Homo sapiens: one gene and its partners. The gene in region 7 interacts genetically with the main gene of each other region. Each region holds a gene or a part of one and is shown on either strand. Other genes may lie near its edges. The genes, in order: WDR82, ATP6V1A, CCT6A, EIF1AX, DHFR, NOP16 and ATG10.

Evidence for each region.
Region 1: of ATG10 (region 7) and WDR82, changing one suppresses a phenotype caused by changing the other (phenotypic suppression), as found in Homo sapiens cells (one large-scale study listed by BioGRID).
Region 2: of ATG10 (region 7) and ATP6V1A, changing one enhances a phenotype caused by changing the other (phenotypic enhancement), as found in Homo sapiens cells (one large-scale study listed by BioGRID).
Region 3: of ATG10 (region 7) and CCT6A, changing one enhances a phenotype caused by changing the other (phenotypic enhancement), as found in Homo sapiens cells (one large-scale study listed by BioGRID).
Region 4: of ATG10 (region 7) and EIF1AX, changing one suppresses a phenotype caused by changing the other (phenotypic suppression), as found in Homo sapiens cells (one large-scale study listed by BioGRID).
Region 5: of ATG10 (region 7) and DHFR, changing one suppresses a phenotype caused by changing the other (phenotypic suppression), as found in Homo sapiens cells (one large-scale study listed by BioGRID).
Region 6: of ATG10 (region 7) and NOP16, changing one suppresses a phenotype caused by changing the other (phenotypic suppression), as found in Homo sapiens cells (one large-scale study listed by BioGRID).

The regions. Positions count from the first base shown.
Region 1 is NC_000003.12:52,271,693-52,276,169, reverse strand, and holds part of WDR82 (WD repeat-containing protein 82), read left to right. Parts: intron 1-4,477. UniProt on the Homo sapiens protein: Regulatory component of the SET1/COMPASS complex implicated in the tethering of this complex to transcriptional start sites of active genes.
Region 2 is NC_000003.12:113,791,609-113,796,085, reverse strand, and holds part of ATP6V1A (V-type proton ATPase catalytic subunit A), read right to left. Parts: intron 1,215-4,477; coding exon 1,092-1,214; intron 997-1,091; coding exon 882-996; intron 211-881; coding exon 147-210; intron 1-146. UniProt on the Homo sapiens protein: Catalytic subunit of the V1 complex of vacuolar(H+)-ATPase (V-ATPase), a multisubunit enzyme composed of a peripheral complex (V1) that hydrolyzes ATP and a membrane integral complex (V0) that translocates protons.
Region 3 is NC_000007.14:56,054,765-56,058,264, reverse strand, and holds part of CCT6A (T-complex protein 1 subunit zeta), read right to left. Parts: intron 2,901-3,500; exon of another isoform or gene 2,763-2,900; intron 2,642-2,762; coding exon 2,468-2,641; intron 1,955-2,467; coding exon 1,851-1,954; intron 273-1,850; coding exon 162-272; intron 1-161. UniProt on the Homo sapiens protein: Component of the chaperonin-containing T-complex (TRiC), a molecular chaperone complex that assists the folding of actin, tubulin and other proteins upon ATP hydrolysis.
Region 4 is NC_000023.11:20,123,862-20,128,338, forward strand, and holds the end of EIF1AX (eukaryotic translation initiation factor 1A, X-chromosomal), read right to left. Parts: intron 4,451-4,477; coding exon 4,445-4,450; 3' UTR 664-4,444; downstream 1-663. UniProt on the Homo sapiens protein: Component of the 43S pre-initiation complex (43S PIC), which binds to the mRNA cap-proximal region, scans mRNA 5'-untranslated region, and locates the initiation codon. This protein enhances formation of the cap-proximal complex.
Region 5 is NC_000005.10:80,627,921-80,631,526, forward strand, and holds part of DHFR (dihydrofolate reductase), read right to left. Parts: intron 1,246-3,606; coding exon 1,167-1,245; 3' UTR 1-1,166.
Region 6 is NC_000005.10:176,385,799-176,389,960, forward strand, and holds the start of NOP16 (nucleolar protein 16), read right to left. Parts: upstream 2,801-4,162; 5' UTR 2,742-2,800; coding exon 2,635-2,741; coding exon of another isoform or gene 2,546-2,634; coding exon 2,437-2,545; intron 1,146-2,436; coding exon of another isoform or gene 1,112-1,145; coding exon 1,042-1,111; intron 222-1,041; exon of another isoform or gene 132-221; intron 1-131. Other genes in the region: HIGD2A (HIG1 domain family member 2A, mitochondrial), read left to right, coding at 3,022-3,175, 3,533-3,699.
Region 7 is NC_000005.10:82,163,521-82,167,997, reverse strand, and holds part of ATG10 (ubiquitin-like-conjugating enzyme ATG10), read right to left. Parts: intron 3,600-4,477; coding exon 3,461-3,599; intron 1-3,460. UniProt on the Homo sapiens protein: E2-like enzyme involved in autophagy. Acts as an E2-like enzyme that catalyzes the conjugation of ATG12 to ATG5. ATG12 conjugation to ATG5 is required for autophagy. Likely serves as an ATG5-recognition molecule. Not involved in ATG12 conjugation to ATG3.

The DNA of each region.
Region 1 (4,477 bases), on a different chromosome or scaffold from region 7:
GAGCTGCTGTGCCTGGCCAAATCCTGTCTTGTTAAAAGTAAAATGCTAGTTTTGTGACATAAGGCAGTTTATTTACTCGTAGCATTTTTACATAATTAGAAACTAACAAAGTTACAGTGTTTCAAAGAACTCCCATATGATTCAATAACTGGTTACATTTTCTGCATTTGCTTCATGACTGTAGGTAAATATTTATATGTACTGTGTGCCTCCCCCCACCTTTAGAGTTGGAGGTATCAAGCCCCTTTATCCCTAAACACTTCAACATGGATTTTCTTTCTTTTTTGAGATGGAGTCTCGCTCAGTCGCCCAGGCTGGAGTGCAGTGGCGTGATCTTGGCTCACTGCAACCTCCGGCTCCTGGGTTCAAGCGATTCTCCTGCCTCAGCCTCCTGAGTAGCTGGGATTACAGGTGCATGCCACCATGCCTGGCTAATTTTTGTATCTTTAGTAGAGGCAGGGTTTCACCATGTTGGTCAGGCTGGTCTTGAACTCCTGATCTCGTGATCTACCCGCCTCAGCCTCCCAAAGTGCTGGGATTCCAGGCATGAGCCACTGCGCCCGGCTCAACGTGGATTTTCTAAGCACAAAGACATTCTTATGTAACCAGAGCACAGTTATCCAAATTAGGAAATTTAGTACTGATACAATACTACAGGGCATGCTCTTGAGTTTTCTCTGATCAATTAATTGTAACCTTGTTTCATTATCTGTGGTGAAGGAGTGGCCTGGTAGTTAGGAGGGAACTGGGTACTAGTTTGGCCTGTGACTAGGTATGTGACATTGGTCAGATTACTTCTTTGGGTATTAGACAACCTCTTTAGTTTCCATTCTAGGCAATAATATGATGAAAAATTTTGTCACTAGTATAGGTCAAACCGACCTCAGAAGAAAAGAAGTATTTCCTTGGGAAGGCATGGTATTGTATCTTTTATTTATTTATTTTTTTGATAGGGACTTTCGCTCTTGTTGCCCAGGCTGGAGTGCAGTGGCTCCATCTCGGCTCACTGCAACCTCCGCCTCCCGAGTTCAAGCGATTCTCCTGCCTCAGCCTCCTGAGTAGCTGGGATTACAGGCATGCGCCACCACACCTGGCTAATTTTGTATTTTTAGTAGATGCGGGATTTCTCCATGTTGGTCAGGCTGGTCTCGAATTCCCGACCTCAGGTGATCCGCCGCCTCGGCCTCCCAAAGTGCTGGGATTGCAGGCATGAGCCACTGCGCCCGGCCTTTCTTTTTGTTTGTTTGTTTGTTTTGTTTTGTTTTGTTTTTGAGACTGCCTCACTCTTTCCTAGGCTGGAGTGCAGTGGCGTAATCTTGGCTCACTGCTGCAACCTCGCTGCTGGATTCAAGCGATTCTCGTGCCTCAGCCTCCCGAGTAGCTGGGATTACAGGCACCCATCAGTGTGCCTGCTAATTTTTGTATTTTTAGTAGAAATGGGGTTTCACAATGTTGGCCATGTTGGTCTCAACATCTTACCTCAAGTGATCTGCCCACCTCGGTCTCCTCGGCCTCCCAGAGTGCTGGGATTACATATGTGAGCCTCCGCACCCGGCCCTGTTTTTTTGTTTTGTTTTGTTTTGTTTTTTTGTTTGTTTGTTGTTAAGACAAAGGTCTTCCCCTGTTGCTCAGGCTGGAGTGCAATAGCATGCTTATAGTTCACTAAAGCCTTCATCTTCTGGGCTCAAGTGATCTTCCCACCTCAATCTCCAAAGTAGTTGGGCCTACAAGCACTCGCCAACTTACTTGGCTATTTTTATTTTTAGTGGAGACAAGTTCTCACCAGGTTGCCCAGGCTGGTCTCAAACTCCTGAACTCAAGCGATCCTCTCACCTAGGCCTCCCAAAGTGCTGGGATTACAGGTGTTAGCTACTGTGACCGGCCGAAGGCATAGTATCTTTATTAGATGACCCTAGTGTTAGAATTTGGGAGTTTGAAAATGGCTAAAGCAAGATTTTGTGTGCTTAGTATTTTCCAGTTTACTGGTCATTTAAATTTTCTTTACAATGGAGTTCGCCCATTGAGTGATATTTCAATTTGGAAGAGTATAAAGGATATTGTTTGTGGTAGGTGAAGCAAATTACTCAAAGTGAAAGGTTAATATTATTTTCCTTGTTGATGCTTGATCACCAGAATTATAGTTTGAGGAAGGAAGCTTACCAAAATATTTGAAAAATGTTGTGCATGTATTTTGTAAGACCCACATGGATGCAGTACAGTATAATCTTGCTTTCAAGTTAGGAAATGAGTCCAGGTGTGGTGGCTCACACTTGTAATCCCAGCACTTTGGGAGGCCGAGGCGGGTGGATCGCCTGGGTCAGGAGTTCAAAACCAGCCTGGACAATGTGGTGAAACCTTGTCTATACAGAAAAATACAAAAATTAGCTGAGCCTGGTGGCAGGGGCCTGTAATCCCAGCTACTCAGGAGGCTGAGGCAGGGAGAATTGCTTGAACCGGGGACGCAGAGGTTGCAGTGAGCCGAGATCGTGCCTCTGCACTCCAGCCAGGGTAACAGAGCGAGAATGTCTCAAAAACATAAAAATAATAAAAATCAAATTGGGAAATGAAATGAGGCAGTAGATTTCTGTTATCAGGAAAAAAAATCTCAGGTTAGTGTTTTTGATAAATTTGAGACAAATAGACCAGATCTAAGTGGAACCAGAAATTTTCCTTACACTATTCTCTTTCAACTTGTCAAGTTAGAGTTGGCTCTTCATGTTCTGTCTTTTTTTTTTTTTAAGACGGAGTTTCGCTCTTGTTGCCCAGGTCGGAGTACAATGGCGCGATCTTGGCTCAATGCAACCTCCATGTCCCGGGTTCCAGTGATTCTCCTACCTCAGCCTCCCAAGTAACTGGGATTACAGGTGCCCACCACCACACCTGGCTAATTTTTTTAATTTTTAGTAGAGATGGGATTTCACCCTGTTAGCCAGGCTGGTCTCAGACTCCTGACCTCAGGTGATCCACCCACCTTGGCTTCCCAAAGCCTGAGATTACAGGCGTGAGCCACTGCGCCCGGCCAGTTTCTGTCTTTGCTATTGTAGATGGGATGAAATAACTGATATAAACTTCTTCCACTGGTAGCAGAGTCAACTATGTAGAGAGTAAGTATACAGCCACACACTGAGACTGCCTCACTGGTTACCACACAGTAACCCCACATCAGAACCCCAGACAGTGCACTTGGCAAAGTAGCCTTTGCTGATCTTTTTAGGAGTGAAGTGTTATTTCAGTAAAGGTAAGAATGTGGAAAATCCAGTGTATTTGTAGTGAGAAGTCTGTTGGAAATGGGTTTCATGTAGGGAAGCCCTTGGCCTCACTTTAACAAAAATTGAAAGTGCAAATAACTGACTTCTTAAAGACTGCTTGAGTCGTGATTGTTTAGTACCTAGATTCTGAGAGGATTTTACATTGAGAGGATTAGCTTTCCTTTTCATAAATTGGAACTCTTGGTTAACATTAGTACAGGATTTATGAAATCTTTCTAAAGAACTAAATGTAGGACATTATGTTAAAGGCTTTCCTGTTTTTTCAGTTGATCGTATTGGAGAGTTATTTTAGCATTTGAATCTAGATTTACATAGATATTTAAGTCTCAAATTTTTATTTTTCTTTTTTTTTTTTTTGAGATGGAGTCTTGCTCTGTTGCCCAGGCTAGAGTGCAGTGGCGCGATCTCAGCTCACTACAATCTCTGCCTCCCAGGCTTAAGTGATTCTCGTGCCTCAGCCTCCTGAGTAGCTGGGACTACAGGCGTGGGCCACCACACCCAGCTAATTTTTGTATCTTTAGTAGAGATAGCGTTTCGCCATGTTGGCCAGGCTGGTCTCAAACTCCTGACCTCAGGCAATCCACCCTCCTCGGCCTCCCAAAGTGCTGAGATTACAGGCGTGAGCCACCACGCCCAGCCTAAAATTTTTCTAACTTAACCAGTATGTGTTAGAGTTTTTGGTTAAAGGTTCTGTTGAGACCAGTTTTAGCCTTGCTCTTCAAGGTTCTGTAAAGGGAGACATTTAAGGAACTTCAACAAATGGAGATTGATAACCTCTAGCTTGGAAATGTGTGATTTTTTGTCTGTTATTGAGGTGGAGTCTCACTCTGTCGCAGAGGCTGTATTGCAGTGGCACGATCTTGGCTTACTGCAACCTCTGCCTCCTGGGTTCAAGGAATTCTCCTGCCTCAGCCTCTTGAGTAGCTGGAATTACAAGTGTGTGCCACCACACCCGGCTAATTTTTGTATTTTTAGTAGAGACGGGGTTTCACCATGTTGGGCTGCTCTCGAACTTCTGACTACAGGTGATTTGCCTGGCTCGGCCTCCCAAAGTGCTGTGATGACTGATGTGAGCCACCACCTTGTGGCCAGAAATGTGTGATTTTGCTTTAAAGTAAAAGCAAAGGAACTATTTAACTGGTTTTGCTAGAGAAAGTTAGGCTTGCCTTCTAAAAGGCTCAGCAAGCGCTTTTGACCTGTAGGATAGG
Region 2 (4,477 bases), on a different chromosome or scaffold from region 7:
TGTTTCTAAACCAGACTTTACCATTGCCTATCCTTTAGAGACTAAATTAAATACTTCACAACGATTACATTAGATCGCATTAGAACAGCAGGGGCTGCAGAGAGGAGGAAAGGCTCAGAAGTTGACTATACTAGGGAAAGACATACCTGAACGATACCAAGAGTGGCAGATGTAACTGGATCAGAAAAATCACCACCAGGTGGAGAAACTCTAAATTTAAAAAAAATATGGTCATTACAAAAAAAATGGTCATTAGAAATGCTTATGAAAAATAACATATATATAAATGTTAACTTTTTTTAAAGTCGATTTTAATGTAAATAACTTTTTAATGTAAATAACTTTAGAAATGACCTTTGGAAAGAAAATCTTACCTAAAAATCTTAAACAAAAGCCAGTATTTAAGTTGTAAACAACAATAGAAACTACAGAACACCTTCTATTATGAGACATGAGATAGATATTTTATTATAATCAATTTTATTATTCTAATCAAATAGATGAAGCAAGGAGGAAACGCTCTAAGAAAAAAGTATGGCTTTATGTAGTGATCACGAATCTTCACTTTCTTTTTACCGTGATGCAATCTCACCTTATTATGTCTATAATTTTCTAAATTATAAAAATTAAATAAATATCTAAATTAAACATATAAATATATAAATTAAAGTCAAACCTATGGAACCAGGACATGTAGAAATTGCCTAAACATGTGCATCTTCAAAGAGCTCCTTAGGTGACTCTGGAGTGCAACCCTCCTTAAGAACCGCTGCTCCCAGCGGGAGCTAAATATTCTCTCTTTAAAATAAGTGACTTTTTTTCTCTCTTTAATACATCTGTGACTTTTTTCCTTTTGCAAAGTAAATAGTGTGGGTGCTTACGCTCCTACAATGCTGACACTCCCTTCTCTTTCAGGATTTCCAAGACATTTCACCCTGCCTGCTCGTTCATAAAACGAGGCCAGACGGGCACCAAGATAGGCTGGATATCCACTATCTGAAAAATGAAAAGAAATTTTAAAACAGAGTTTCTAAGCCAGCCCCGAAAATCCCATCAGTCTTGTTTACATGATAAGCAATACACAGACTTACCTGCAGGCATTTCAGCTAAACGACCAGAGATTTCTCTAAGGGCCTCAGCCCATCTAGAGGTAGAGTCAGCCATCATACTGACATGATAGCCCATGTCACGGAAGTACTCTGACAGTGTGATTCCTAAATTGGGAAGAATATTATTATAAGTTACAATGCTAGCATATAAAAATCCTGTTTTTTTCCACCCTTAAGAAAACCTTAAAGCAATAAGTACACAACGTAGACTGCTAGTGGCTCCCTCAAAGCTGCTCTTCCTCTTTTTCTGGGCACACACTGAATTGTTTCCTAGCATCCTGTGCACTTAGATATGGCCATGTAACTGATCTCTGGCTAACAAAACTCAAGTCAAAATAATGTGTTCTACGGTCAGGCAAGTCACACGCTCTTCCATACTCTTTCTTCCTTCTGGCCTACTGAAATGGAAAGAACTCCCAGTAGTCTTGGAAGCCATGTGTTGAAAATGGTAGAGCTCATTTCAGGCTGGATCATGGCTCAGAATGACAGAGTAAAGAGTGCCCTGAACACTTGAAATAAACATCTATTATATTGAGCAAATATATATTTGGAATTATTTGATGCCATAGCCTAGCTGGCCCTAATATAATGCACATTTTAGAAAGCAGGAAATGACTTTCTCTATTCTTTGTTGAAATAATTAAGTCTGAAATTAATTTTCAAATGTAGCTTCTCTCTATATATCACATACACACACACAAACATGTATGCATGCAAAAGTAACCCTTAACCAATCAGCTTGGGTGGTTACTTTTCAAAAGTAGCAAATGTTATTAAAATGAGTAATATCTTAATTGTCCAGATTATTCTGCTATGCAGATCAGGTCCTATCCTGTAAATTTAGACAGTAAACCACTTATAAGCAGCTAATATACAGAAACGAGTGTTGGGTTCTAGTTCCTATTCTGTCATTAACCTTAGCAAAATAACTTGATTTCCCAGTGTGGCTTCCTAACCTATTAAAAATGGAATAACGCCTGCCCTATATACTTGTATATATGGCAGATGAAGTGAATTAAATAAATGTCATCTAAAAAGTACAAAGCGCTATGAAACACTAAGATATTAGGAAAAATATATAGTTATATTATAAAAGTTCCAAAAGATTTTGGAACTTTTATAATGCCTTGGTTTTTTTATTTTACTGGTAAAGAAACAGAGGTTTATATAAGTAAAATTAACATAATTAGTGGAAAATTCAGTACTTTCCTATTTATCATATTGCATCTTTCAGAATAAAAAATACTGACTGTTCAGGCATCCATAAAATGGTCTCATGAAGAAAGTCTTTAGGAAACATTACTTATCAATATTAAGGCTTCAACAACACAATAATTACCACATATTCCAATCTAATAAGAACAGATTCTTTCTTATACAAGCATGCTGTGTTTTAAATCTGTGATGAAATGTCACAGATACTTGTGATATTAGAAAGAAATGGCAGAAAAGACAGATACATATGAGTAAGTGAGAATTCTCTGACAGACCTACAGGTATCAGTGCCTACAAGAAAAATATGCCTCAGACAAAATCAAGAGATAAACAAGCTGGGACATATTTGCAACTCATGACAGATAAAGGACGAATTTATTCATTAATCAAAGAGTTTCTGGCCAGGCGCGGTGGCTCAAGCCTGTAATCCCAGCACTTTGGGAGGCCAAGGTGGGCAGATCCCCCGAGGTCAGGAGTTCGAGACCAGCCTGGCCAACATGGTGAAACCCCATCTCTACTAAAAATACAAAAATTAGCCAGGTGTGGTGGTGGTGCATGCCTGTAATCCCAGCTACTCGGGAGGCTGAGGTTGTAGAACTGCTTGAATCCAGGAGGCAGAGGCTGCAGTGAGCCAAGATCGCACCACTGCATTCCAGCCTGGGTGACTGAGTGAGACTTTGTCTCAAAACCAACAAACAAACAAAAAAAAACAACAAAAAACCAAAAAGAGTTTCTAGAAATCAGTATGAAAAACAACTATCATCCAAAAGGAAAATGAACACAAGGCAGTTTTTAAATGGTTCATACACACAAGAAAGATGCTAGTTCATTGTTAAATACAGATTGAACAGGTATCTAATAAAGCAAGAATAGTTAAAATTTCAATTGTCAAATCTAAGTGCTGGGTACATGGTATTCACTGTAACATTCTTTCAACTTTTCCGTATCTTTGATAATTATCATAAGAACGTGTTGAAAAAACTAGCATTGGTGAAGATGTTGAGAAGCAGAAACTCTTGTCCACAGTTAGCCCTTTTGAAGGGCTATCAGAATGTAAAATAATAATTAGCAGCTGTATTGGCAGGAATTTTGCTTCTAAGAAATTACCCTAAGAAATGTACAAAGAGGCCAAGCATGGTGGTTCATGCCTATAATCCCAGGACTTTGGGAGGCCAAGGCAGGAGGATCTCTTGAGGCTAGAAGTTGCCCATCCTGGGCAACATAGTGAGACCCCCATCTCTACAGAAAATAAAAAAATTAGCCAGGCATGGTGGCTCATGTCTGTAGCCTCAGCTACTTGGGAGGCTGAGATGAGAGGATCCCTTGAGACCAGGAGGTCAAAGCTGCAGTGAGCCATGAACATGCCACTGCACTTCAGCCTGGGTGATAGAGCAAGACCCTGTCTCTAAGGAAAAAAAAAACATGCAAAGAAACATGCATGCAAAACATACAAAGAATAGTGTAAAAATATATGTTTAAGGATGTTTTAGTGCTGCCTATCGTAAACGACGATAAAGAATCCAATAGTCCACCAAAAAGATGCCAGTTAAATTGATTATGATATATCCATACAAAGGGATACTGTGCAGCCATTTAAAAGAATAAGGTAGCTTTCTTAAAATGGTAGATGAATATGTCACTGTCTCTTCCTCATAAAACTTACCTCCAAACAAGGAGAACAAGAAATACAGAAATACAAATTTAGTCATTAAAAACTAGGAGACATAGTCCCACAACAATATAATTTAAAAAGTCACCTAAATAAGGTGAAAACCAAATAAGGGTATGGAAAAATGCCAAGAATTCATCTGAGGCCATGCATCTCAGATAAAGCTTCTGCAAACTTGAAGGCACATCTTCAAGTGCCTTGTTTGTTTCCAAACAAAGCAAGAGTGCTTTGTTTGGAACACTGCAAAAAGCTACATGGCCAGTCGCAGGAAGGAGTTCCTTGTACTCAGTTTGGCATCAAAGAGAAGCAGGAAGATAGGGATGAATAAAACACAAGTAGGTACTCCCTATTTTCACTAAATGAAAAGTGGGTGAGACAGAGGAGAATTCACTGTGAATGGTCTTACAGCTGCTGATTTCTGGTATCAGGCAAGAAGAGTAAAATAGCTTTTTTACACAGCTGCATGCCATAATAAACTTCACAA
Region 3 (3,500 bases), on a different chromosome or scaffold from region 7:
CAATCCTGCCCCTTATGCATCTTCAGAGACTGTTTCCTATAGCTCCCCCAAACCAATTTGAGCATTATTGTCCTTACAGTGGGAAACAAAGTTTCACAAAAAAGTAACTCGCCTAAAATACGAAGCTTCTCCATTTCACTGTTAAGGGGCTATAAACTTACGTTTTCTCATACTCTAATGACACGTTACAAGTGAGGATGTATGCATCCTCCACCCTTTTCTTCATATCAGGATGCCGTGCTCCGTGGTCCAAAACAAGCCCTCTGATTAAGCTGTTTAAACACACACAAAATTATGGTTATTGATTTTCAGATGGGTATTTAATATATTAAACACTGAAATGAGAAGGTATTGATATTTCACGCAGTCACATTTTTCTTTTTTGAGATGAAGTCTCGCTCTGTTGCCCAGGATGGAGTGTAGTGGTGCCATCTTGGCTCACCGCAAGCTCCACCTCCTGGGTTCACACCATTCTCCTACCTCAGCCTCTCAAGCAGCTGGGACTACAGGCACCCACAACCATGCCCAGCTAATTCTTTTGTATTTTTAGTAGAGACGGGGTTTCACCGTGTTAGCCAGGATGGTTTCGATCTCCTGATCTCGTGATCCGCCCGCCTTGGCCTCCCAAAGTGCTGGGATTACAGGCATGAGCCACTGCGCCCGGCCTATTTCTTAAATTACCTGAAGATCCTACGCTGTACAGAAAAGTCTGCAGAGATGGTCTCACTGGTAGGCTGTCAAACTGTGATGACGTCCTTTAAAAACATGTTTTCTACCAAGCACCTGTAATCCCAGCACTTACGGAGGCAGAAGTGAGAGGACACCTTAATCCCAGGAATTTAAAACCAGCCTGGGCAACATAGGGAGACTCCATTCTCCACACAGACACACACACACACACACCCCAAAGGGAAAACAAACATGTTTTCTAACTAACTCTTTGAAAAAAATATTTTTTTAAATTCCTCTACTACTTCTCATTATGCTTTGTACCTAGCAATTCAATAAATGCCAAATGACTGATGTTGTTCACTTTTCAGAATCATTCTAACCATAAACATAACATTCACCTTATTTCAGGAGAAAATATTACTAAAAACAATATTCTCCTAGCAGTTTATCCAACTTATATCTTCAGGTAAATATATAACATTTTATATCCAAAGATATTTTTAAAATTGCCATCTCACGCCTGTAATCCCAGCACTTTGGGAGGCCGAGGTGGGCGGATCACGAGGTCAGGAGATCGAGATCATCCTGGTTAACATGGTGAAACCCCGTCTCTACTAAAAATACAAAAATTATCCGGGCATGGTGGCGGGCGCCTGTAGTCCCAGCTACTCGGGAGGCTGAGGCAGGAGAATGGTGTGAACCCGGGAGGCAGAGCTTGCAGTGAGCCGAGATCATGCCACTGTACACTCCAGGCTGGGCGACAGAGCAAGACTCCATCTCAAAAAAAAAAAAAGCCAACTATCTATATTGTACAAAGCACCCCTAAATTTCTAAACACAGTTTATTTTTTGTTTTTGTTTTTTTTTTAATGGGACGGGGTTTCGCTCTTGTCACCCAGGCTGGAGTGCAATGGTGTGGTCTCAGCTCACTGCAACCTCCGCCTCCCAGGTTCAAGCTATTCTGCTGCCTCAGCCTCCCGAGTAGCTGGGATTACAGTCATGCCCGGCACGCCTGGTTAATTTTTGTAATTTTAATAGAGACGGGGTTTCCCCATGTTGGCCAGGCTGGTCTGGAACTCCTGACCTGAGGTGATTTGCCCACCACAGCCTCCCAAAGTGCTGGGATTACAGGTGTGAGCCTCCATGCCCATTAGTATTTCACAGTCTTCTACCACCTACCTTGTATCAGTTTCAGATTTATGTTTCATCTCCATGATCTCAATCATGAAGAGATCAATAGGTTCATCTTGCTTTTTAATGGCCAAAATGGAGTCCACTACAGCCTGCAATTGGAGGAGCATAACCGTTAAGTAAATTCAATTTGCAGCAGAAACATGTTGCTTTTCAGAAGGCTAAAGTAGGCAGTTTCATTTTACAATTCTACACTGATTTAAGTCTTTTTCTATCAGCAAATAGAATACATTATATGTAAAAGGCAACAGCTGAAGTCATTTACATTTCTGAAATCTCCATCTATAATTCCCAAACATTAACATTAATTAACATTAACATTCCTCGTTTTATTAAAAATACTGGTAACTGGAAGCTTTCTAATAAAAAAATCTCCACTTTATAAACCTTTTAATGAAAGCTTCAATTTTACTTTTATAACCTGGTTAGGTATACTATTATTTTAATTTCCTCATTTTTAGAGACACAGATTAGGTATCATTGCCACAAAAATGAACCTACACAGCACCTTGTAATTGAAATTGGTAATCATATTCATGTTTCTACTATCAGAGATTTTCTATATAGGTATACTATACCAGACATAGACAAAATTTAATACATACCTCTGTTAAGACATCTGCAAGTTCAGCATGAACTTTAGTACGAAGAGATGTTCTGGCCACATCTATAAGTGTTTCCCTGTCCATCTCTCTGCTTACTTTGACTTCTTCCAAAAACTGAAGGGCCTTTTCCTTTGCAGCTTCAAATCCTTCAGTGATTATTCTAGGATGAAGGCCCTAAAATAAACACACATTAACACTTGCATCTTCAATTAGGTGCAACCATAGTTCATGATAAAGTTCAGGTAATTATTGAAGGAGTGTTCTGGATCATCATACCTTTGAACACGAGGTAATATAATGTGCTGGCTTTCTGAATACATTTAAAAGGACAAATATTCCTTTCAATGCAGAGCAGATGAACAGGTAATGAATGCTCTAGCACAGGGTCAAAGCCAAGGGAACTATAAAGCACACTTGGGTGTTCACTGTGCAAACCACTCTGAATCATTTCAAAACCAACACTGTGTCCCAACAACTCACAGATGGTAGCATTATCCTATCTTTATTTTCTTTCATTTTTTTTGAGATGGAGTTTCGCACTTGTTACCCAGGCTGGAGTACAATGGCACAATCTCGACTCACCACAACCTCCACCTCCTGGGTTCAAGCAATTCTCCTGCCTCAGCTTCCCAAGTAGCTGGGATTACAGGCATGCACCACCACGCCTGGCTAATTTTTGTATTTTTAGTAGACACGGGGTTTCTCCATGTTGGTCAGACTGGTCTCGAACTCCCAACCTCAGGTGATCCGCCCACCTCGGCCTCTCAAAGTGCTGGGATTATGGGCGTGAGCCACTGCGCCTGGACTATTCTATCCTTTCTATAGGTAATCTCAAACTAACTCACATCATTTACTAATAAAAATAAAGACTGTTCTCTTTCTCCAGGAAATTCTGACAATACATTCATATTCACTGAGGTTTGCTTTAACCTTGGAACTAGTCAGGGCTAAAAAAGTGGAATTTATCCAAATATAAGCTTTTGGTTGCCTTTTTCCTAACAAATATGCCTAGTCCTAAACATTCCATTTTTAG
Region 4 (4,477 bases), on a different chromosome or scaffold from region 7:
AGACTGCACCACTGCACTCCAGCCTGGGCGACAGAGTGAGACTCTGTCTCAAGAAAAAAACAACAAAAAAAAATCCCATTGTTAGATTCCTAAGACAGGTTTAAAATTGTAAATATGTATTAAACGTTATCAAATCTGCGAAGTCCAACTAATTTTGTATCTGACAGCACAGAAATCAGCAATGGGACTTGACTCGGACTTTGTCCCTACTTTCTGATCTACCAACATCAAGTTGTGAACTGAACAAAACAATGGACTGGAATGGCAGTACAGACTGGGCTTTTAAAAGGGGGCAAGTTGGCCAGAAGTGTAAGTATTTACTTCACCTATAGGTCTCTGCATCGTATAAAGTAAAGGTCTGTTGAATGTGACTTTGCAATCTGAAGTCACTCTGCTGAAGTGACTTACCATTAGAAAATGCCTTCTTCAGCACAGATTTGTGACAAATTCACTTGCTGAGAAAATGCAACCCCATATCTGGAATATGGCTAAATGGATTCATTCAGATCAAACAACCAAAAACAGACAAAAATAAAAACAAGGTATACCTTTTCCTTATATATCACAATTAAGTTTTAAAAACAGCAAATTTTTGGAAAAGAGTCATATGAATAAATAGTTTAAAATGTTATAAAGTTAGAAAAGAATCAATTGTATACATTGTTGAAAGTTGTTCATATTTTATTTTCTAATTGCAGTAGTTTGTATCTGATTTCTTTACATCATTCCATATGATGGGAAAGGAAACCTCTAAATCAGTTAGTACTAATTAGCTGTCATGAATCTATAGTAAAAGGAATCACTGAAGATTTAAGAATAAAATATTATCAGAGGTATCAATATTAATAACTATAATCTTTTTCTAAAGAAATATAGAACAGTTGGTATTTTGTAAAATATCTTCAAGCAAATGAGAGACTTCATCTGTTAGTCTTATGCCAAATTAAATGAGTTTGGTAGCAATTTCAAATACTATGTTGACATGAATGTACAAATATACATTCTACGTGTTCCTTCTATTGTACGAATCAAAGACTGCACGCAAAAGAAATGGGAAATACAGAATACAGAAGACATGCACCTTCTATCTTACATAGTACTGGATATCAAGTGAAAAGAGCAGACACTGATCTAAGTACATTACATGTATAAACATCTAAATTATCAATCCTCCCAACAATTCTGCATGACAGGTACTGTTTTCATCATCCCCATCTTAGAGGTGAAGAACCTGAAGCTGAGACAAGCAGGAGAATGTGCCAGTGGTCACCTGCAGGTAGAGGGCCAAGTAAGGGTGGGGGCAAAGGCCCTTTGACCCCAGGATCCATGCTCTCCCCTCTCCAGTACACTGCCTCACAAGTACCTAGCAACTTGCAGGGCTAGGAGGGGGGAATAAGAGAGGACAAAGTCCAATACATTCTCCAAATTGCTCAGTTCATTCTATACCTGAGAGTCTTGTGTCTTTTCACATTTTGCTCTTTTCTGAATAGGAAGAAAAAAAGCAAAGATAAAAAGGATGGTAGTTTAGGGTAAACCAAAAACACAAAGCAGTGTGCAAAAGTTCATGGGAGTCCAAAGAGTATAAATAAAACTTACCCTTACGAAGTAGAATAAAGATAAGCATTTCATACCAATACAAATCATTTTCATCTTTATGACAGTCAGGTAACATCAAAAAAACCTTGCTTTCATTCTGATACTTTAGCTGTCAATCCAGTCAATACCGGTTGTTGTTAAGTCTGTATACAAGTAAAGTATAAATCTAGCTATTTTACTCAAAACATGCTTTTACCTATTTGATTACTCAGAGTTACTCTGAAATCAATAATGACAGCAGTTTATACCTATGGAAGATGTTACTGAACATCATAATCTAATATTTACATTAGATGAGATTAAGTTAAATTACAAGTCACAAAGAGTTTGTAAGCAAACATTTATAGCCATGATTCCACAGATGTGGTGAGTAAACCAACAGCCATTCCTAAATAAAATACAAGAATTTCCATCATGCATAGTTTACAGGCTTGGTAAGAAGCGGTCTCTTTAGGGGCCAGATGCTTAAGAAATATTCAACAAACAATGAAATCTTGGCTTTTTTTTTTTTTTACACAAATGTTTGGTTATTTAGCCACACTAGTGATAAAACATATTCATATTCTAACTGCAAGTGGAATAAACATTGCAACAAAAATGCAACCCAATCAAAATCATTAGTAATAACTATTACTCCCTCTTAGCAGTAAGAACCATTATTCTTGGATTTCAAACATTTTATTTTCTGTGCATAGCTTATAGCACTGTATTATAGGAATCAGAGTGTATAAGCAAAAAAATGAAAAATAAAACTTCTTGGAGACCATTTCCATTATTTATGATTAAATCAATGAAACTATACAATTTCCACATTAAATACAAATTAGTAGAAGAATTCCTCCAAGTAGTATTGCATATAAGCTACAACTTTACCCCAACTATTTTAATCACTATGATTCGAGATTTCCTAGGATTTAACAGCCCAAGATTGGGCTGTTACTACCTCAGCAAGAACAATCACCAGTAAATACATGAACTGGGGTTATAGCTGAATTTTTAGAAACTCTCCAGACAAACCACGTGTTAGAGGAGGTAAGTAGAAAAACTAATGTTTGAGCTGTGCTATTCCTACCAGGAACTATATCAAATATGCAAAGTTCAAACATTCTTAGTAAAATAATATGAAAGGATCTATATATACTGTAAATTTAGCAAAAACACTTTTATGTACAGAAGCCTAAATATCTTAGGAGGTTTAGAATACCAATGAAGAGAATTGTTAATTCTTCAAGGCTGGTTTCTTATGAGGATTAAAAACCAGCCCTTAGTCTCAGATGCATTCCACCTAGATGTGTTCACGAACTCCATAGAATAAGAAATATAAACCATGAATACGTACTCTTAATTTCCATTCTTCAACTTAATGTTCTATAGTACTTCAGATTTTTAAATCCAGAGTTTGGTGTACACTTAGGAAATTATAGTAAGAGTAGATTAGAGAAGATTTGCTTGTTTTCCTTTTGAAGCCATGTGAAGGTTTATTACCCTGTGTATTTTCATCACTGAAAAGTTCCCCGGTGACTAATAAAATAAAAGTGTCACAAGCTACATGATGGATCTCTTCTTTTAATGTTGCATAGAGTTTCAGTTTGGCTAGTGAGGGCTAACTAGCTCAGCCCTAGTTTCATTTTATTAGAGTTGACCACTAAAAACTAAATAAGGAAGTTACCAGTAAAGCTAATTCCCAATACAAGCAAAAAACAAAAACAAAAAACAAAAACAAAACCATTCACATAATAAAATATATCCTTAACACAAAATAAGGGTATAACATATTCTGCAGCATGACATTTTATTTTATTTCTCAGCTGTAGCTTTTTCATTCAGAAACTGGAGACCATCTTTTCACTGAGTTGTTATTCCTTCCTCTTCCCTTAGCTTAGGGATATGTTGAAAAAGGCTTTTCAACAAGTATTTTATTTTTTACAAGTTGCTATGAAATTAAAATTTATATATATATCTTAAGTGTTTATAAAGCACTCAAAATTGTAGCTTACATGTATATGACTTCTGAAAATAAAAATCACACTTCTAACATAATCTTTCTGCTCTGCAAAAATATTCTACATACATGCATATGATCAAAACAATCTTTTCATGTTTGGGGTATTTCTTACACATAGTAAAAGAAAAGTCAACAATTGTATCAGTACTTCCCCTGTTAAGATAACTGAGTGCCACCTAGTGTTCAATTTCTGCAACTACTAAGCTTACAAATTCAATACTGCTATTAAAACCCAGGTTCTGAAAACGGCATTTTGGAAATCTTTTTTTTTTTTTTTATGTTTACGGTGGCAAAATACGACTATGAAAAGAACATGATATCAAAATCAGTATAAAAATAGCCACAGGCTACTTAAATATGACAAACAGACTTATTTTTTTTCTTCAACTGCAGACTTCTGCCTCCCTCAAATTGTATCAAAATCTCAAGGGAATATCTAGGTAACTGGAATATACACAATGACTCTATACAATCAAGAGGCCAGGGCTTAATCAGATTCCGTGAGGACAAGGCAAATGATTTCTTCAAAACACCCATTTTCTTACTGGAAGTGGTAGGAAAAGCAGCAATGCATGGTTTTTTTTTTTTTTTGTAATTAGTAGACATGGTCTTCTACCCATAAGCTCCATTACATTAAAAGAACAAAGTGGGCTTAACATCTCACTTAAGATAATTCAGCATTATTATCAGTTTTAAAAAAACCAAAAATATCTTAGAAACAAATCAGTCTGCTTTAACAAATTGCATTCATGCTAATGAAATTTTAATCTTCTTTGTCATGATCAAAATCCAAATTGTAGGACAATCTTCAGAAAAGATGGAATGTAAAATGTTGAGTTCAATTTAGATCTGGAAGGGAAAAGAACATCAGATGAA
Region 5 (3,606 bases), 1.5 Mb from region 7:
GTGCCGGGTGTGGTGGCTCAAGCCGGTAATCCCAGCACTTTGGGAGGCTGAGGTGGGTGAATCGCTTGCGGTCACGAGTTCGAGACTAGCCTGACCAACATGGTGAAACCCCATCTCTACTAAAAATACAAAATACAAAAATTAGCCGGGCGTGGTGGCGCGCACCTGGTCCTAGCTACTTGGGAGCCTGAGGCAGGAGAATCGCTTGAATCTGGGAAGGCGGAGGTTGCAGTAAGCCGAGGTCACACCATTGCATGCTAGCCTGGGCAACAAGAGCGAAACGCTGTCTAAAAAAAAAAGAACTTACATACTTAAACATCGAATTGCTTTAAGTGTTTGGCATTCACTGTTCCCGTGCATGCCAGCAGCTTCTTACTGCAAACACCTGAGACTTGCTATAGAGCAGCTGGACTATGTTCCGCCCACACACAGGACAGGGAGCTGACAACCAAGGAGGGGGGCGGGATCAATACTCCAGCTTTCCCCCCTCCATTTCCCTGTATCTCAGCAGTATGGAGCTTGTTATCAATGAGAACCTGCTCGCTGACTTTAAATTGCTTTTCTTACCTTCTCAGTTCAGTTTCTCCGTACCTCAATTGATGATTTCTGGTATGACCTAGCAAATACACTGCTTTCACTGAAATTTCAGTCTTGCAATCTGCTTTGGGTTCCCCAATCTAAGACAGAAACATACTCATTTTCCCATCACTGGACTTCCAGGTTGTTTTCAATTTTTCACTGTTACAAACAAGGTGGCAACATTTATCTACAAACCTCTGGATATACACGTAGGAAGCTTTTGGTATTTCCACTAGTGAAACTGCTCAGTTGAAGGGTATGTGGATCTTCATCTTTAATAAATATTACCAACATGTGAAAAGCCCGACAATGTCAAGGACTGGCAAGAGTGCCACATGTGATGGGTGTGGAATGGCAGCTCACTGTAGCAGGTGCTGGGGACTCAGTTGGGGTCTTGGAGAAGCACTTAGTTATAGCAAGAATGTCTCATAAATGGTATCTGATAGAGACAAGAGTAGTGGGGAATAAAAACTAGTTGCTTAGAAATAATTATAGATCTAAAGTCAACAAAAAACCTTTTCTAATGTAAAAATACATACTTTTTTCAGAGGGAGGGGGAACAACTTAAACTAGAAAACACCTTCATATTAATCATTCTTCTCATATACTTCAAATTTGTACTTAATGCCTTTCTCCTCCTGGACATCAGAGAGAACACCTGGGTATCTGTAAGAAAAAATATATAATTAAATTATGTGTCCATTAAAAACACAGCTTCCCTGATTCTCAGTTTAAATGCATCAATAGTGCATAAAGCAAATAAAAGGTTTCCCTTTTTTCTTCACAATGGTAAGCCACTGTCAAGTTGGATAAATATCATGCTAGTATACTACATATGCAAATGGTAAGAAAAAAACTGTAAACTATATAGAAAGTTAGAAAACAAAAAGTGTAATTTCTCCTTTTTTGTTTCCTTTGGATTCCTCATTCTCTCAAAAACCAGTCAGCAGTTTCCCTTGTATCTTTCCACTCTATCACCCAGCTAACAGGAAATTTCTTAAGAATTTTTTGCAAGACTTACATTTGGTATCACATTTCTTGTGTAAGCAAAAGACAAAAATACAATCTGAAGCTGTTTAGAACATAACTGAAATTATGTGCCCTGGACAGTGACAGGTTCTCTGCTTCTGTTTGATTGATGGAGACTATACTGCCCTAATTCCACAATGTGTGGCAGATTGTAATTCCTTTATTAGGATCTGCTATTCCTGTTCCCTAACTCTCACTTAAGCCTGTGTTCTCTCCAGCTCCCCTTCCAAACCCAGCTTCTCCACTGAGGAATCTTCTGACCCTTCCAGCCTCCAATGAACCCCAATCTTTGGTTACTTCTTCAGTACTATGCAGGCTGCACCCCAGTATGCTCCAGGTGGTCAGGAACGCCTGCTTGAATCAGACTGTGCTTCACTCTGGTTCTGCTGTGTGACATGCCTCCGAGCCTGGCTGTCAATAAAGTCTTCATCCTTGTAAAAAATGTAGCATTGTTGGCCAGGTGCAGTGGCTCACGCCTGTAATCCCAGCACTTTGGAAGGCCAAGGTGAGTGGATCACTTGAGGTCAGGAGTTCGAAACCAGCCTGGCCAACATGGGGAAACCTTGTCTCTAATAAAAATACAAAAATTACCCGGGCATGGTGGCGGGTGCCTGTAATCCCAGCTACTCAGGAGGCTGAGGCAGGATAATTGCTTGAACCTGGGAGGCAGAGGTTGCAGTGAGCCAAGATGGCGCCACTGCACTCCAGCTTCAGTGACAGAGCAGGACTCCGCCCCCATCCCCCAAAACCAAAAAAGAATGTAGCATTGTGCCTAACACATCAAGTGTTCTATAAATGGTGCCTACTAGTATTATTGGTTTGTTTCATTTCTCTTTTTTTTTTTTTTTTTTTGAGACGGAGTCTCGCTCTGTAGCCCAGGCTAGAGTTCAGTGGTGCAATCTTGGCTCACTGCAAGCTCCGCCTCCTGGGTTCATGCCATTCTCCTGCCTCAGCCTCCCGAGTAGCTGGGACTACAGGTACCCGCCACCACATCCAGCTAATTTTTTGTATTTTTAGTAGAGACGGGGTTTCACTGTGTTAGCCAGGATGTTCTCGATCTCCTGACCTCGTGATCCGCCCGCCTCGTTTCTCTATTTTTTAAACTCATTGTAGGCAGGGACAACACAGTAAACTTTTAAGTCTCATGATATTCAATACATTGCTGAGTAATAATAGACATTAACCTTTGCTGACTAATTAGAGATTATGCATTTTTGGTAAAAAAAAAAACAAAAACAGAGATACAATGTAACAAAATTATAGGGAAAAGAAAAAGATACTTTCTGGAATAATTTATATTTCAGGGGAAGAAGCAATGTTTCTATTAACCATTTTCTATTATAATTTTAGTCTCTCTGGAATGAGTCATGAAAAGTAACATCTACATACATTTTTTGTGCAAAATTCTCAAGTGTCAAGATTGTCAGTTCATAAGACAAAAGCAACATATCAAGAAGTTTTTGGGCCATGTGCGGTGGCTCATGCCTCCAATCCCAGCACTCTGGGAGGCTGAGGCCGAGGCGGGCGGATCATCTGAGGTCAGGAGTTCGAGACAAGCCTGGCCAACATGATGAAACCCTGTCTCTACTAAAAATACAAAAATTAGCTGGGCATGGCGGCACGTGCCTGTAATCCCAGCTACTTGGGAGGCTGAGGCAGGAGAATCGCTGAACCTGGGAGGTGGAGGTTGCAATGAGCCAAGATCGTGCCACTGCACTCCAGCCTGGGCAACGGAGCAAGACTCCATCTCAAAAACAAAAAATAAACCAAAAAACCAAAATACAATTAAAATCAAGACTCTACAGGAAGCACAGGCTCAGGAGCAAAGGGATATCCGAGTCATGTGGACGAGTATGCCAGCATCCTGACAGGAAGTTTTAGGGTCAGAAGAAGAAACATCAGCCCATCCAAAACCTACTTCAAGGTGTCCACTGATAAGGGGCATCTGTCCCAGCTCTGGAGCCAACTACTGCCTCCACAGGCCTCTTTTAATCTGTC
Region 6 (4,162 bases), about 94 Mb from region 7:
GCCCCAGCACCTTACTAGTGCTCCATGGGAGAGAAAAAGCCAGGATGTGGAGCCAACTAATGGCTTCACTTTTAAAATAGACAGGCAAATCCTACTCCATTTCTCATCTAGAAAGAGAGAGAAAGAGCTACCTCAGAGAAATGAAGTAGTCGAATCATATCCAGAGGTTAGGTCCTCATATTGTATATAGTCAAAATTATCTTTGACACGGTTGCCAGGGGCTGGAGGTAGAGGAAGATGGGGAGTTGTTTAATGGGTATAGTTTCAGTTTTGCAAAATGAAAAGGTTTTAGGGACCTGTTGCACAACAAAGTCAATATCCTTTACTGAACAGTGCACTTAAAAATGGTTAGGATGGTAACTTTTATGTGTTTTTTAACCACATTTTAAAATTTTTAAAAATGTTCCTCTTTGACTACAGTAAGTGCCTATGGCTTGGTATATACAATCCTGTGCAGTAATTCTTATGAGAACCACTGAGATAAAAGACAGGAACTCAAGGAATTCTGTATCAAATGTCTGGCCATTCAAATCCTTTATCTTTAGGGGAGCTGCTTAAACTCCCTGACAGGTAAGGGGAAGGATGAATGAAGAATTCTAGAGTATTCCCACTTTCCTGTAGGGTTTACTCTCCTCCGTTTTAGCGTTCACTCTCTATAGCCTTAATATACATAAAATCGATTTTGTCATTGGAACATTTATTGAGATGGTGGAATCCCTAAAAATCAGTTCATCCTTAAATTCATGAGAAGCCATACCCATGCCAGAGATTTACTGGTTTCTCTTCTATTCTCCCAGGCACCTGGGTACATCCTCCCTAAACATCTCTGACCTTAGTTCACACAGTAAGGTCAGGGTTTAGTCAGTACAATGAAAAATGAGCCAGCCAGGACACAGTCCTAACTCTGTGAACTTTGAACCAGCTCACTTCTCCCCTCTGAAACTTGGTTTCTCCATCTGCAAAATGAGGACATCTTAGGGCCCTTCCCAGCTTCCCACAGTGCAGGACAGTGACCTAAAGGAATATATGGACCACACCCACCATTCAGCACATAGGGCTTCCGTACAAGCTCTTTAGGCCTCTCCTCTATGTCCACCTCCATGGCCTTCACCTGCAGAGAACAGAGCCCTTGAGACCAGAAGGATCTTTGATGAGGGAAAGTTATAGACTCCTGCTTATCCCAACACAACTACTAACCCATAAGAATCCCTGCCCACGGTTAGGTAGAAGTAGGTAACAATGAGAACTAATGCCCTGGAGGCTTTTTCTCTCTCTCTCTCTTTTTTTTTTTCTTTTTCTTTTTGAGACAGAGTCTCATTCTGTTGCCCAGGTTCAAATGCAGTGGCACAATCTTGGTTGACTGCAACCTCCCCCCGGGTTCAAGTGATCTCCTGCCTCAGCCTCTCAAGTAGCTGGGATTACAATCATGCGCCACCATGCCCAGCTAAATTTTGTGTTTTTAGTAGAGATGGGGTTTTGCCATGTTGGCCAGGCCGGTCTCAAACTCCTGGCCTCAAGTAATCCGTCTGTGCCTTTTACCCCCAACACAATCTTGGTGACAAGGACTTTGTGTTTTGTTCTCTATTAAATCCCCAGGGTGCTTAGGATGTGACATGTTCTCAATAAGTAGTTAACCTAATGAATGGGCTTCGCGAATGAATTTGTTCCATTGCCTTAGGCAAGTTTCTTTTTATTCTTTCATGCCAGAGGAAAATGGCACTACCATTTCTTGAATAAATGTGAGGCTACAGCCACACAGTTAGATAGTCCCTAAGGCAAGGAGTGTTATACCCATTTTATAGATAGGCAGGCAGAGAAAGATGAATTGCTTGCTTTTCTTTTGGGAACCTGGATTCTTTTAATAGTTGTTGAAGCCTCCAGGGGGCCAGGCGGATCACTTGAGGCCCAGCCTGGCCAACATAGCGAAACCCTGCCTCTACTAAAACCACAAAAATCAGCCGGGTATGGTGGCACACGCTTATAATCCCAGCTATTTGGGACGCTGAGGTGGGATATAGCTTGAACCCGGGAAGGAGACTGCAGTCAGGGAAGCCTAGGGAAGCCTCAGACCAAGGATGATTGAATAACAAAGAAAAGGTGTAAGTAAAGATCTCCAACTCTTAGGGAGTACTAATTAGGAAAGTTAAGGGTAGAAAAAGATAAATTAAGGAAAATACCGTTGAGATGCTAATGGGTTAATTTCAGAGAAAAAAGACTGAGTAGAGGGGGTATGGGGAATGTGTGCTGGGGAGGGAGTGTGACGAAGGTCGTAAAGAGACCCTTGCTCAACGTCAGTTGAGCGTTCTGACTGTGGGGAGGTCGAAAACTCGGAAGGGCCTGAGGGAAGGAATGGGCAGTACCACGTTCTGACACCTAGGTCAGTATGGCGGGGGAAGAGTAAAGAAGACAAGGACCGAGACCCTGCCATGTCAGTACCTTTCTCTTACGGAGGGGCACCGCCCTGTTGGGGTCCACAGCCAACCCCATCTCGGCCAGGTTCTGCCGTACCGATTTAGCGTGGTCCCAGGCATGTCGGATGTGGGAGCTACCGGCAAAGAGAGACATCGCGGATCCGTCATCTCGCGGACCGTCCCGGCCGAGGCCCACGGCCACCCGGAACCCCAGCCCCCTCACCATTCGATCCGCGGCGCTGCCTTCCGTCGAGCATTCCGGTTCAGACGCTTTCGGTTGACACTGTAACCAAACTTCTGCCTCCGGGTTTTGCCCTTGGCCTTGGGCATCGCGCTGACCACCGCACCAGCAGCTCAAACACGCTGCCTCTGTCTCTCAGACCTCGTGTAACAAACTCCTTCCGGAAGGCGTGCACAAGGCTTTGCGGGCATTTGGGGAAATGTAGTCCTTTTGTAGCACTACCGTGCTGAGCACTACGACTCCCAGGATGCAACGAGCATTTGCGCCTGCGTACAAGGCTCAATTTATTCGTTTCCCCGCCCCTTTCATGACCTTCACCGGGAGGCTGAGGTCGGAGTCCCGATTTTCTCCTGCTGCTGTGGCCCGGACATGGCGACTCCCGGCCCTGTGATTCCGGAGGTCCCCTTTGAACCATCGAAGCCTCCAGTCATTGAGGGGCTGAGCCCCACTGTTTACAGGAATCCAGAGAGTTTCAAGGAAAAGTTCGTTCGCAAGACCCGCGAGAACCCGGTGGTACCCATAGGTAAGTGGGTGCGGTAGGAACTGCACAAGGAGAGGACAGTGATGTCGGAGGGAAGGAAGTAGAGAAGGACCAGAGCGCTAGCGGGGAGCGGAAGGAGAGCGGACTAGAGAAGAGACGAGGGGGCGGGGCGGTGAGGGGCGAAACTGATTGGAGCGGGAGCAGCGGGTTTAGGGGGCGGGATTTGGGGCCTAAGATTGGGAGGACTCTGTAACTAGGAAGACCTCGACTCGACCTACCCTCGCCGCCCTCCCTCCGCTGTGATCCAGAGATCTTGGCTTTGGGGAAGCGAGACCCAAAGCGGGGAATGACCTGCGGGGCCCGACCTGCTGTTTCCCAGTTGCTTTGTCCCCTCCTCAGGTTGCCTGGCCACGGCGGCCGCCCTCACCTACGGCCTCTACTCCTTCCACCGGGGCAACAGCCAGCGCTCTCAGCTCATGATGCGCACCCGGATCGCCGCCCAGGGTTTCACGGTCGCAGCCATCTTGCTGGGTCTGGCTGTCACTGCTATGAAGTCTCGACCCTAAGCCCAGGGTCTGGCCTTGAAAGCTCCGCAGAAATGATTCCAAAACCCAGGGAGCAACCACTGGCCCTACCGTGGGACTTACTCCCTCCTCTCCTTTGAGAGGCCCATGTGTCGCTGGGGAGGAAGTGACCCTTTGTGTAACTGTAACCGAAAGTTTTTTCAAAAATCCTAGATGCTGTTGTTTGAATGTTACATACTTCTATTTGTGCCACATCTCCCCTCCACTCCCCTGCTTAATAAACTCTAAAAATCCACTTGTATTTAATTCAGTATCATCCCCATGGTTTTTGGTCTTTGATTTTGGAGGAAACGGACTTTGGAGTGGTGCTTAGAAATCGTGTAGTCTAGTGATTCCCGAACTTTCCTAGTAACAGCCACCCAGGGCACTTTGAAAGCAGAGATTTGGCCAGGCGCAGTGGCTCACACCTGTAATCCCAGCACTCTGGGAGGCCGAAGCGAGCGGA
Region 7 (4,477 bases):
GGCTATTTATTATTACTCAACAGACGTGCAATTATGTCTCACCCTCTCCTGAGTGACAAAGGGTATTAACTGTGTCCCACCACCTCTCCCAAACCTACAATGACAAAAGTAGTTAGAGAAAAACAGAACATTGGGATGGAAGGGCTTATTTCTTCTCTTAAATCCACGTTGCCCACTTGGTAACTGAGCTCCTGTACACCAAAGTAGTAGAAATGAGAGGCAGAAGCAGAATGCTGTCTCAACTTGGCTGTCTGCCTTCAAGAATTAAATAAAAATACGTGTTTATAGAAGTGGAACAGCTGCTTCAGCTAGTTTGGATACCCACTTTTGAGTCCTCAGGATGTTCTATTTTTCTAAGTCCACTACTCCTATAGTCTCTGAAAAGTATCAGACTAAAGAGTAAAGATACATAGATGGTTTGGGTCTTAGGTCTCCTGGAGACAACAGAATTACTTCCTCTTTCAAAACCTGGCATAGCAGTTGAAGTAGGCACCATCACAATGTTTCCATTCTTGGGCTGTATTTTTTAAATGACTAGAAATTCTTCTTTATCGTTTCACTTAACAAATACTTGATGCTGTGCCACAGCTGAATAAGCCATATATATACATACATATATCTTATACATGTATACACACAAAGCCATAAATAAAGCTTCTCACTTTGTAGGCACTCAGTATCAATTTCCTTCACTCTTGTTTTTATCTTGAAGCTCTATGTTCCAGCATATCATTTTATAGATATAAACAAATATTTCTGCTATAGTACAAATTGTGATATAATAGAATATATGATATGATATGACATGACATGACATGGGAGCGACAAGAATAGATGGCATGTTAACTGAGTCTTGGGCTACTAGTAATTGGCCTGGTGGAAACTGGACCATATAAAGAAAAGGAATTCAAAGTCTAAGGGATTTGCATTTCGAGAACCAGAGTAAAGATTTCTTCTGAAATCTAAACAAGTTGATACAAGAAAGGGTAATGTAAATTTAAATGGAAACTATTTATTACTTGTTTTGCTTTTCCTTAAAAAAATAGGTACAGGGAGAAAATTTAGAGCAAAGCAGAGAAATTAATTTGTACTAACAATCAAATGCAAAAGAAATTATAAATATCTGTCAAAAACAAGGCTAAGTGAACTATTTTTGAAGCAACAACAACAAAAAAAGACCCCTGGGCAAGAAATTTTACAGTCATCCTCTTTCTAGGTCGGAACTCTCTTAGAATGAGACAAAGAAAAATCCGGGCCTGGAATAAGAGGAAGACATTAGGAATCCTTTCACCACACTGACAGAGATTTGTTTAACAAACAGATGAAGGGCCAGAGTAATCAGATATCACAGGAAAAAGTAAGGAGAATAAAAAAGACTGGGGGGGGAATAAATGAAAAATTGTGACTCCAGAGTAAAGGTTGATACATTTTAAAAATATCCATGAGGTTAAGTTAGGTGGAAAGAAAAAATAAATTATTAGAATATGATAAAGGAAAGAAAGAACCATTCTTCATGTTTCTCCACCAGAAAACATTCAGTATGCTGCACAAAAATTAAATTTGATATTTTAATGTACCTGAACAAGCACTAAATGAATTCTGGGCCAAAATAAAATTTTAAATTCCTAATACCCACTCTACACAACACAAAGCAGTGGTGGTGGGGGGCGAATGCTTCTACATAAAAACAAATGACTTGTTTTGGTTTACCTTTATAAGGCATAAATGGAGGGCATTGTAAAAGTATACAAATAGAAGCCAAGAATGTTAATTGTGTTTTTTTAAAAGAATAGAAAATCGTGAAGAAAGGATCACAGAAACTACACCAATGTCATTAAAATATAATTGGACTTGCAGGAACAATTACTGTGCTGTACTGTAAGGGGAGCTGTTGGCACATAAGAGCAAAGCACACATATGAGCTCATCAGCAGGCCTTGGCAAGACCCACTTCCAGCTAGAAGCAGTCATGTTTCAACACCTCTGATTCCCTAATGCTGACAAGCTAAACAACTTGTTTTGTCTCTGGGAGCTCTTCTCTGGTGATTAACTGCTTATGGTGAATACTAATTATATGAAAGTACAGTATTGAAGAAGTAATGTCTTATTTCCTCTACCTGCAGCCTCGACTTGTCTCTGAATCTAGAAGGCAGAGCCATTGCAAACCAGAACCAAGAAAGACATTTTCCTCCCCCTGAATAAACAAATATATCTCCTACTTTTTAGTATAGCACAGCTCACTGACAAGAAACTTCCTTTAACCTCTGGGCTCCAAACCAAATATAATTACCATAAAATGAGTGTTTTAAAGGCTTGTAATAATTATATGGATAAATCCACAGCAAGAGTTTGTGAATTAGTGAACTATCAGTGTCCTCCATTCCCCATGTCCCATGTTGAAAATTTACCCCAAATTGTCAGTTCTTAGGAACTGCACCTCAGATTAAAATCTTCTCACCAGGGAGTCTATGAGAATTTCTTCTTGTGTTTTAAATCCTAAGTGCTTGTTAAACTGCCAACACTGCAAAATTAGAGACCATTAAACAATATAACAGCAAGTGATTAAATCTACCAAACATACATTCAAGCAGCTTAAGCTACTTTTGAATTAAAAATAAAATATCATTGGCTAAATTCAGATGTCTTAGCTATCCAGAAAAAAGTCAGAAGGCTGTTCAAAATGCACAATGCTGCTGATAAGGCCAGATACAAAAGGAGAAATAGGGCAAGGGGTTGGCTGAACAGGAGGCTCATCTTGGTCCCTGGGCCTGGGTGGCAGCACATCCCAATGCTGACCCGGTTTAGGCAGTGGACTCTAAGCGGGAAGCCATGGCTGTGCTGCAGAGTGAGGACGCCATGTGGCTGCTGATTAAATAAGCTTTATTAGCTAAGGCCTCCAAGGAGACAGGGTATTCCACCTTCTTGGCAGGGGAATGAGTTGAGTAACAGCATCACAGGAAGCTAAGGCATTGGAGATGTATAGATGGCTGAAGGAAATGTTAGTGCTATTTTTAAATACAGCTTAAGCTAATTGATAAACATTTCTTAAAATAATTATTAGCTTTTGGGGAAGGAGGCACAGGAGCTTCTGAGTTAATTGGATCATCTGAGATTAAAATAAATTTTTACTGTAAAGTTAGAAGTAAATAAACATTGTAGCTTTAAGTTGTTCCTACTTGTTTAAAGTAAAGAAAAGAAAAAGGGCCAGGGGGCTTAGTCAACTTCAGGCAAAAGGCCAAGAATCTGAAGATCAGACTTAAGGCTGAGATGATATCATTCACGCTGAAGTCTTGATACCCTTTCTGAAGCATGAGAAAATTTAGTGGTAAAACCTTACCTCACCCACAGTTTTCTCATTTTTAACTCTATTTTTTTTCCTCTGGAGAATAATTTTCCAAATATGCTTTTTGCTTTATATGTAAATGTTATAAATTTACTTTTAGCTTCAGACATGTTCTTACCTAAAAAGCTTGCCCTAAAGTAAAGTACAGGCACTTGGTAGCTACAGGAATATAAGACATGATACTCATATTTAATCACTTCGGACGCTGCTGCAGTTTCAATCACTTCACAATCATCCAAGGGTAGCTCGAAAGCCTCCTAAAAAAAAGCAAAAACAAAACGAAAACGGGTTTCTTAATAAGAAAAGTACTAACATGGAGAGGAAAAGAGGAGATTTTCTTCTCACAAAATAACAGTTAAATAAATATAAGGCTATGAGGCAAGGAAAAGGGAGTTTCCCATATTAATGTTTAACATTTGAGTCCTGGGTAAATAGTAAAACCAGAAAACATTAGCATTAAGTAATTCCAGATTGTTTTTGAGACACAAAGAGGCTCTGGATAAAGAAAAAGGAAAAAAAAATCTGAAAAGATCTATTGCCTGAAAAATCTTTACTGTACAATTTTAGCAACAAGATGATGGCTATATAAGCTACCTTCTTCCCTACCTGTGAAAGCTAAAAACATCCTAACAATTGAACAAGAGGCTGTGAAATGTCCCTAAAGATTCTATTGTACTTGCCAAAAGATGATTCATTGTGTGCTGAACAATTCCCAGTTCCATTTTGAATAAGAAAGTTATTTTGCAAGAGGTTGAATTTGTTAGGTATATTTCAAAACCTGAGATGATTCTGTTTTCTTCATTATTGTGCTATCTTTGGTATATTTCTACAATAAATCTTGATTTATAATAGAGTAGATGGCAAATATTAATGTCAACTTGAACAGAGTTTTGTAAGCAGAGATGATGATAGTCATCTCACTTCTCACCTGATCATTTTTTACTGGTTGATTTTTGTGTGTGGGGCTTTTAAAAGAATGTACCTTACTGTTTAGAAGCAATTAATTGGACATGTTGAGTCAGACCCTGGTTCCATCCACTTTCACTTATTTATTGGGGTTGAAGAATTTCCTTTGAAATTAAATTAGTACTAGAAGGAATGAAGCAGGTTGGTTTAGCTCATTTCTACCTCTCAT